2 separate regions of the Homo sapiens genome follow, and region 2 is linked to region 1. Evidence: fine-mapped expression QTL. A gene starts in region 1. The other region holds a variant in brackets. All regions are shown on one strand. Distances are between the middles of the regions. Region 1 holds the start of KIF27 (kinesin family member 27). Region 2 overlaps FRMD3 (FERM domain containing 3).

Region 1 (4,393 bases):
TACCCTTGAAAAAAAAAAAACCATGGCCCAGCACGGTGGTTCACATCTGTAATCCCAGCACTTTGGGAGGCCAGGGCGGGTGGATCACTTGAGCCCAGGAGTTCGAGACCAGCCTGGGCAACATGGAGAAACCCTGTCTCTACTAAAAATACAAAAATTAGGCAGGCATGGTGGCGTGCGCCTGTAATCCCAGCTACTCAGAAGGCTGAAGCGAGAGGATCCCTCCTGAAAACAAAACAAAACAAATGTGAGCCACGATGCCCAGCCTCATTTCTTGGGGTTTTTAATGGTAATATCTATAAAGAATTTGGTTATAAAGGCAACTGAAACTTATTCTAAGCATTAAAAAAAATAATAATGGGGCCGGGCACAGTGGTTCACACCTGTAATCCCAGCACTTTGGGAGGCCAAGGCAGGTGGATCGCTTCAGCCCACGAGTTCCAGACCAGCCTGGGCAACATGGTGAAACCCTGTCTCTACTAAAAATACAAGAATGTGCCAGGCTGTGGTGACGCACCTGTAGTCCCAGCTACTTGGGAGGCTGAGATTGGAGGATCGCTTGAGCCCGGGAGGTTGAGGCTGCAGTGTGCCACTGCACTCCAGCCTGAGTAACAGAGCGAGACCCTGTCTCAAAACAAAACAAACAAACAATAGTAATGGTCCACAAACATAGGGCTTGTAAAACATCAATATACAAGAAATAAAGTTTTTACACAATCCATAGCACTTATACTTCAGATTCTGATCAATTATAGTCATCAGAAACATACGTATTATGTTGCCAATAAATGATTTAAAAAAAAGCAAAATCTGATTGGTCGTATTTAAGTATACTCAACGGGTTTTTGAAATCTGAGCAAAGGCAAGAGAAATATTGAATCCCTCATGTCATGTCACTGGTCAGGAATGAGTGTCTCCAAAAACCGTTGCCATCCCGTACCCTTGATTTCCCAGAAAGCAGTGGTTGTCTTAAATGTGTGGTTTGTTAATTATTTTCATAAAAAACTTGCCAGTAGATGGACAGTAAATCGCATACGGAGCTCAGAAAAGGCCCCAAATGCGTAAAGACGACAAAAGAGTAAAGAAGGGCAAACAACAAGGATTTTCAACACTGGAGACTTAAAAGGTGTTACTTAAAAGGTGTTTCAAAGAAAGAATCTGGGCGCTTTGCTCTTTATAGTCACCTGCCTCCGAGGGAGGGAGCTCTCGGGCTTGAATGTGCCCAAGGTTCAACCTCTACGGTAGGAAATGCGCCCAAGTTTCAACCTCTACGGTGGGAAATGCGCCCAAGTTTCAACCTCTACGGTGGGAAATGCGCCCAAGTTTCAACCTCTACGGTGGGAAAAAGACGCCTGCGATAAAACAAAGCGCTCGGTGGTGGTGGCCCTCGCGTCGCACCTCACGCCGTGCAGCGACACGAGACGAACACAGGGTGCGCTCTGAAAGGCCGGGTCCCGCGTTCCGGTCGATCGGTGTTCCCCGGGACCCGCTCCTCAGGGCTGACCCAACTTCCTCCGGAAGGGGCGCTCTGCCTCTAGTCGCTCGCCGGCTCCCAGCCCCGACCCCAGACCCCTCGGACGCCCCCATAGGCCTAGCTGGCGCCCCAACCGCCCACCCTCCGCTACCCACCCGCGGCGGCCCCGACCCCAAGCCGGAGCCTACTAGTCCCAACGGCCGGCTGGGGGCGCGGGAGCGGCGGGCGCGGCGGGCTGGAGGGCGGGCACCGCGAAGGGAGGGCGCCCCACTTCCCCGCACCGCCCGCCAGGCCCGCCGAGCACTGACCGGCTCGGGACAGCCCAGGCCCCTGTCGGCGAGCGCTGGACTCCTCAGCTTCGCTCTGCCACACCGCGCAGCCGCCGTCCGCGTCTTTTGTTGTCGCGAGTTCTCCTGGCAACCGGCGAAGCCCGCCTCCCGCCGCGTCCTCTCCTGGATGCCGCGTCCTGGCCCCGCCCCCATCCTGGCCACGCCTCCAAGCCCGCCGCGCAGGAGTCCTGCGTCCCCAGGAAGTCCGCAAAGGGCCGGCCCCTGGGCTTGCCTGCAAATCCGAGTTGTGTCCCACCAACGCGCTGGGACCGGTCTGTGAGGCCTGAGCGCAAGCATCTTTCTACGGGTTCGTGAAATGAGTGAGAACGATTCCACACCGTGTTTCAATATCTTAGCTACCAATTCAGTTTATTTTTATTTTTATTGAGTAAAACTTGCCTAACATAAACCATCTTAAAACTCACAATTCAGTGGCGTTTAATGCATTCACAGTGTTGTGCAACCATCACCTCTGTATATAGTTCAGAAACATTTTCATAACCCCAAAAGAAAATCCCCAAACCAGTTAGCAGTCATTCCTTCTGGTTCCCCTCTCCCCACAACCCCAGCCAGCCACTAATCTACTTTCTGACTCTGTGATAGCTTTACCTATTCTGGGCATTTCTTTATTGATGGAATCATTCAGTATATGACCTTTTGTGTCTAGCTTCTTTTGCTTAATGTTTTCAAGATGCAGTCATGTTGTAACATCTATCAGGACTTCTTTTCTTTTTTTTCTTTTCTTTTTTTTGAGACCGAGTCGCGCTCTGTCGCCCAAGCTGGAGTGCAGTGGCGTGATCTCGGCTCTCTGCAACCTCCACCTCCCGGGTTCAAGCGATTCTCCTGCCTTAGCCTCCCGAGTAGCTGGGATTACAGGCGCGTGCCACCACGCCCGGCTAATTTTTTGTATTTTTAGTAGAGACGGGGTTTGTTTCACTGTGTTAGCCAGGATGGTCTTGATCTCCTGACCTCGTGATCTGCCCGCCTCGGCCTTCCAAAGTGCTGGGATTACAGGCGTGAGCCACCACGCCCGGCCCTTTAGATGGAGTTTCGCTCTTATTGCCCAGGCTGGAATGCAATGGCGCCATCTAGGCTCAACGCAACCTCCACCTCATGGGTTCAAGCGATTCTCCTGCCTCAGCCTCCGGAGTAGCTGGGATTACAGGCATGAGCCACCCTGCCCGGCCCTATCAGGACTTTTTAGGGCTGAAAAAATTCCATTGTATGGATATAGACATACCACATTTTGTTTATCCATTCTTCAGCTGGTGGTGGACATTTGGGCTGTTTCCATGCTGCTATGGACATTCACATACAATATTTGGATGTCTGTTTTCAGTTCCTTTTTTTTTTTTGAGATGGAGTCTCGCTCTGTTGCCCAGGCTGGAGTGCAGTGGCGCTATCTCAACTCACTGCAAGCTCCGCCTCATGGGTTCAAGCAATTCTCCTGCCTCAGCCTCTGGAGTAGCTGGGATTACAGGCATGTGCCACCACCACGCCTGGCTAAGTTTTCTGTATTTTTAGTAGAGACGGGGTTTCACCATGTTGGTCAGGCTGGGCTCGAACTCCCGACCTCAGGTGATCCGCCCACCTTGGCCTCCCAAAGTGCTGGGATTATAGGCGTGAGCCACCGCGCCGAGCCTGTTTTCAGGTCTTTTAGGTATGGACGTAAGAGTGGAATTGCTGGGTCGTATGGTAATATTTAACTTTACCAATTTAGTTTTAAATGCTTTAATGCCTCCTGTTTTTAGTAGCACAATCTAAGCATCTTCAAAAACCCTTCCTTCTCTCATGAAATATAGGAATGAAGGTGGGGGAAAAAAGCTGACTATTTTATTTATAGTTTTTATTTTTTTTTCTTTTAACTGAATTATTTAAAATTTTAAAAATTCAGTCTGGGCACAGTGGCTCACACCTGTAATCTCAGCACTTTGGGAGGCTGAACTGGGAGGGTCACTTGAGCCCAGGAGTTTGAGACCAGCCTGGGCAACATAATGAGACCCCCCATCCCTACAAAAAATCAAAACTTAGCCAGGTGTGGCTGAGTATGCCTGCAGTTCCAGTTACTCTGGAGGTGGAGGTGAGAGAATGGTTTGAGCCTGGGAGGTCAAGGCTGCAGTGAGCTGTTGTTGCACCATGGCATTGCAGCCTGGGTGACAGAATGAGACTCTACCTCAAAAAAATAATAAATAATACATAATTTTTAAAATTCTAAGATTTCATTTATACACATACCTGTGTATTGAGTCATGATGTCAAGGGAATGTCTGATAGTGGCTCAGTATCAATCAAATGCGAAAGCCAGTGTCCTGGGCTTGCTTTTCAGATTGGGGTGATGGATTATTTCCTAGTCTTCCAAGGTTCCCCTCATGATTGGTGGAGATTGTGGTTGCCCAATTTGACTATAGGGCCAAGTTGCATTTTTAGAACTCTTTGAAAACAAACAAAAACTCACATCATGACTGTGAATTGGTAAGTCAGACTGGTCTGCTGACAAAACTTCAATAATTAATAGTACGTAACAATTTAAGTCTAGGAATACCCAGAAGTCTCAACAGAAGTTCTCAAGAGGCCACACAATTGCAGAGAG
Region 2 (4,393 bases), 590 kb before region 1:
TCAAATGTTTGGGAGTGCTCTCAAGACTTGCCCTTCAGCAGGGCTTGGGACTTTAGCACTCAGCGACTGCAGGGAGCTGTCTATGCTTTATAGCATTCATGTGGAATGTGGGCTGGAGAGAGATTCCTTTGCTCTTCAGTGTCATCCCTGGCTCTCTGGACTTTAGAAGACTTTTCTCCTCCCTGTCATCCTGCCTCCTGCCGTCAGCAAGGGCTTCCCCACCCAGGCTGAAGGTCTGGAGTGCCTCTAGGGGATTTCACTCAGCTCTCATGCTGGTTAAAAGTTTGCCTAGTTGCCCTTAGCCCTGACCTAGGGTGTAATCCTTCTCTTCCTGTCACTCCACCAGAAGTGAAAGCAGCTATGCGTTTCCACTCTCCTAAGAAAGACATTCTGGATTTTAATACATTCAGATCGATTTGCATCTTCAGCTCTCAGATGGGTTCAAAAAATATGATTTTGTAATTTAGCCAGCTTGTTGGTGTTATTTTGGTGTTAGGAGAGATCAATATCTCATGCCTTTCTACATCCTAAATGGAAAGGAAATGAGAGTTCCCAGTCTGTCATTTCCAATCTTTCACTTAGAGAGGGACATTATCTCTCGCAAATCCTTTTAGGAGCCATCTTTATGCAGAGCATTAGATAAAATGCTGCAAATTTGGACAGCTGCCACGCTATGAAAGAGACAGTGGTAACACCCTGGGGCCATGCAGGGACAAGGCTTATAGGAGAGCAGCAACTTAGAAAGATATTAGTGCACAATGCACGGAAACTCAAATTTCAGGTCAAGTTCTATTGCTTCATAATTGTGTAGCCTTGGATAAGTTAATTTCTCAGAACTCTGTTTCCTTATCTGTAAAAAAAAAAAAAAATGGTGGCTGCAAACTCAATGGAAGGAGAAGGTAAGTTGGCAGAGCAGGGATGGTGGCAATTCAGAGACAAAGGATTCTTTTAAAGAGGCACTGCTGCTGAGTGTTGCCACACAGAAGTCAGGGAGCCATGTGACCAAAACCCCAGTCGCAACTGAAGCCAGAACTTTATGGCAACTGGTTCCATTTTTTACAGCTATTATTTGGCTCAAACTACATACATCTGGGTCACAGTGTAGTCCAAGGACTGTCATTTTATAACTACTGCTTTGGACTCCAAGGATCCCTTAAGCATAGAAATTGGCTGTCAAATTTCTTTGCTGTTGGCTAGTGACCTCTTGATAGTCGAAGGCGCTAAATGATAGTCAAAACTGTCTTTGACTAATAAAAATTAGGAGGCAAATTAATTGTTGCTTCATGAATTATTTTGTAGATAAAATCTTTCAAACCATGAGGTCATAGGGGAGTGTGGATGATGAAGGAGACCCCAGCTTGGGGATGAAATGGCCGAAAATCTGGGCTAGGCCATCCCACACTACTACAGTGCCCCACAAAAGGCTGCTCTTCGATAAATATTAGTGGTATGAATGGATGGATGGAAAGATGCATGGATGGATGGATGAAATATAAATGGATAGAAGGATGGATAAATATCCTCTGGATAAATTCACTGTTATAGTCTCATTGAAAGTTCAAAGAATCTTTAGCTCTATGCATAAGTTAGAATCACATGTGAGATATAATCAGACAATGTATTAAGTAATGGCTGACTCCTACTTTCAATAATATAACCCTCTCTCCTTCTTCATGGCCACATTGCACTTTGGTAACATTGCTTTTTCCCCCTTAAGGTCATCGTAGCTAGATTTCACCTGTATAAAAAACATGAATGGCTTGGACATGCACACCACTTGCCCCAGCCCATCCCTCCCTAGAAATGTCCTTTACCCTAGGCCACAAAATGCCAGGACTTCATTTTTACAGTGAACGCATTTGATCCCAAATCATCCCATCTTCCCCCTTCCTAAGAAAGGTGCTATACCAAATAGCAACAAAAAATGCAAATTGATTTGATAATCTACCAGGGAGAGAGATTCTATGAGTTTGGAAGGGACTTGGGAAGGGAAATGATACAGGGAGAGAGATCGATGACAAAGAGAAAACTCATCTTAAGAAAGATTGGGGTTGTAAAATAACCAGACATTTATTTCTTGTCTTCTTTTTACACAATAAACACACTTCTCAAAACTGACAAAAACATTTCTTAAGAGGGCCCTTGTGATCTATTCATCAGAAGCAAAGGTAGAGGATATTTTTCATGTCAGGGTATTTGTTTCTAGAAACCTAGACGTTTTTAAAATGATAACTCCATTTTTTTAAACTATAGCCATGGCGCATGATTTACAGAGAATATAACCTTTAAGAAATAGAGATAATTACTCTGTTTAAAAAACACACTGTGTCATTCTTGCTTCTAGCACAAACCTCACTGCCCCGGATCATTATAGTGTGGCTAGTTGGATGATTTTCCTGCTCTTCAAGGGCAAGGAATATACTTCATCAAAACTGCTTTACTGCCAATTGAGCCTTTTGAATATTTAAAAGCTGATGACCTATGACTGAAGTTAATGCAAATGTCTCTGTCTCTAATGACAAACCTGATGAACTGGTGATGAGAGGAAGAAAAGACTAGC[T/C]GAGTAGAAACTCTAGGAAATACCTCCAGCAAAGTCTATCAGGGTTCTTTATGGTAAAAGCAATCTTATTCTTGATCTTAAACCCCTTCCGAGCACCCTCAGGACTAACGGAATGGGTATTTCCTCTTACCCCAGGTGGCTTTGATTAAAGCTGTGGAAAACAGAAACCAAGAGGGACAAAAAGAACAGAGGACTGGCGAGGCATGGTGGCTCACACCTATAATCCCAGCACTTTGGGAGGCAGAGGCGGGTGGATCACCTGAGGTTGGGAGTTTGAGACCAGCCTGACCAACATGGAGAAACCCCGTCTTTACCAAAAATACAAAATTAGCCCGGCAGGGTGGCGCATGCCTGTAGTCCCAGCTACTCCGGAGGCTGAGGCAGGAGAATTGCTTGAACCCAGGAGGTGGAGGTTGCGGTGCGCAAAACTCCATCTCAAAAAAAAAAAAACAAAAAAAACAGAGGACCATCAAGTCCTCAGGGGTTGCAGCAATGGCTTCCTCCAGTCACCAGAGGGCTCTAGAGGGAGGAATAACCTATTTCTAAATCAGTCCTCATCTCTGCACACCAAGCTTAAAGTCTGAAAATTACAAGAGATTATTTTTCACACATAGTTTTACAAACAAATATGGCTCCTGATAACTTAAAATTATCTACAGAGGCAGGAGAGTGAAGTAGAAATTGATTCCATACCTGGTCTGCCATGTGTTTAGAACAGGAGTCAGCAAGCTAGGACCCATAGGCCAAATGTGGCCTGCCACCTGTGTTGTCAATAAAGTTTTATTGAATCATGGCCCACTCATTTAAGAATTGTCTATATCTGCTTTTGCTTTACCAAAACAGAGCTGAGTCACTGCACTAGAGACCGTATGACCCAGAAAGCCAAAAATATTTAACTAGCCCTTACCTAGAAGAATCATTCGGCTCAGTGGGTTATGTAAGTGACACATCTCCATATCATCTAGTTCACATGATATTAAAAGGCCCAAAGATGCCTGTATAAAAATCTTTCTAAATGCAACTCTATTAGCTAGAATGACCAAAATCCAGAACACTAACAACACCAAATGTTGGCAAGGATGTGGAGCAACAGGAACTCTCATTCCCTGCTGGTGGGAATGCGAAATGCTACAGCCACTTTGGAAAATAGTGTGGTGGTTTCTTATAAAACTAAACATACTCTTACCATATGATAGAGCAATCATGGTGTTTGGTATTTACCCAAATGAGTTGAAAACTTATGTCTACACAAAAACCTACACACAGTTATTTATAGCAGCCTTATTCATAATTGCTCAAACTTGGAAGCAACCAAGATGTCTTTCAGCAGGTAAATGGATAAATTATGATACATACAGACAATGGAATATTATTTTATGCCAAAAGGAAATGAGCTCTTAAACCAAGAAAAGACATGGAGGAAACTTAAATGCATATTACTGAGTGAAAGAAGCCAATCTGAAAAGACTACACATTGTATGATTCCAACTATGACATTCTGGGTAAGGCAAAAGCTATAGAGACAGTAAAAAGATCAGCGGTTGCCAGGGGTTAGGGGAGAAGGAGGGATGATTTTTAGGACAGGGAAACTACTCTGTATGATACTATAATGGTATTGGTATTGCAATGGAATGATACTATACATTCATCAAACCCATAGAGTGTACACCAAGAGTGAACTCTAATGTAAACTATCAACTATGAGTGATTATAATGTATCAATGTAGGCTCATCGGTTGTAATACATGTACCACTCTAGGAAGGATATTGATAATGAGGGAGGCTATGCATGTGTGGGAAAGGGGTATAGAGGAAATCTCTGTGCCTTCCTTT

What was found. PIP is the estimated chance that this variant, and not a neighbour inherited with it, causes the effect.
Region 2: its variant is the best candidate, but not a certain one, in a credible set for the expression of KIF27 in monocytes after Pam3CSK4 (Quach 2016, PIP 0.74).

What each region holds. Positions count from the first base shown.
Region 1 is chr9:83,919,589-83,923,981 of GRCh38, forward strand. It overlaps KIF27 (kinesin family member 27), which reads right to left and starts at 1,844. Exons shown (of 18, transcript NM_017576.4): 1 at 1,783-1,844. It overlaps LOC105376335 (serine/arginine repetitive matrix protein 1-like), which reads left to right and starts at 1,313. Exons shown (of 3, transcript XM_011519284.2): 1 at 1,313-1,673; 2 at 1,766-2,110. The coding sequence starts at 1,313. RefSeq lists enhancers at 1,376-2,125, 2,740-3,244 and silencers at 1,447-1,826, 1,857-2,006.
Region 2 is chr9:83,327,328-83,331,720 of GRCh38, forward strand. All of the region lies in intron 6 of FRMD3 (FERM domain containing 3), which reads right to left. Among named protein-coding and RNA genes, the nearest start is that of FRMD3-AS1, 110 kb to the left of the region's middle. The variant T/C (reference allele first, on the strand shown) is at 2,561.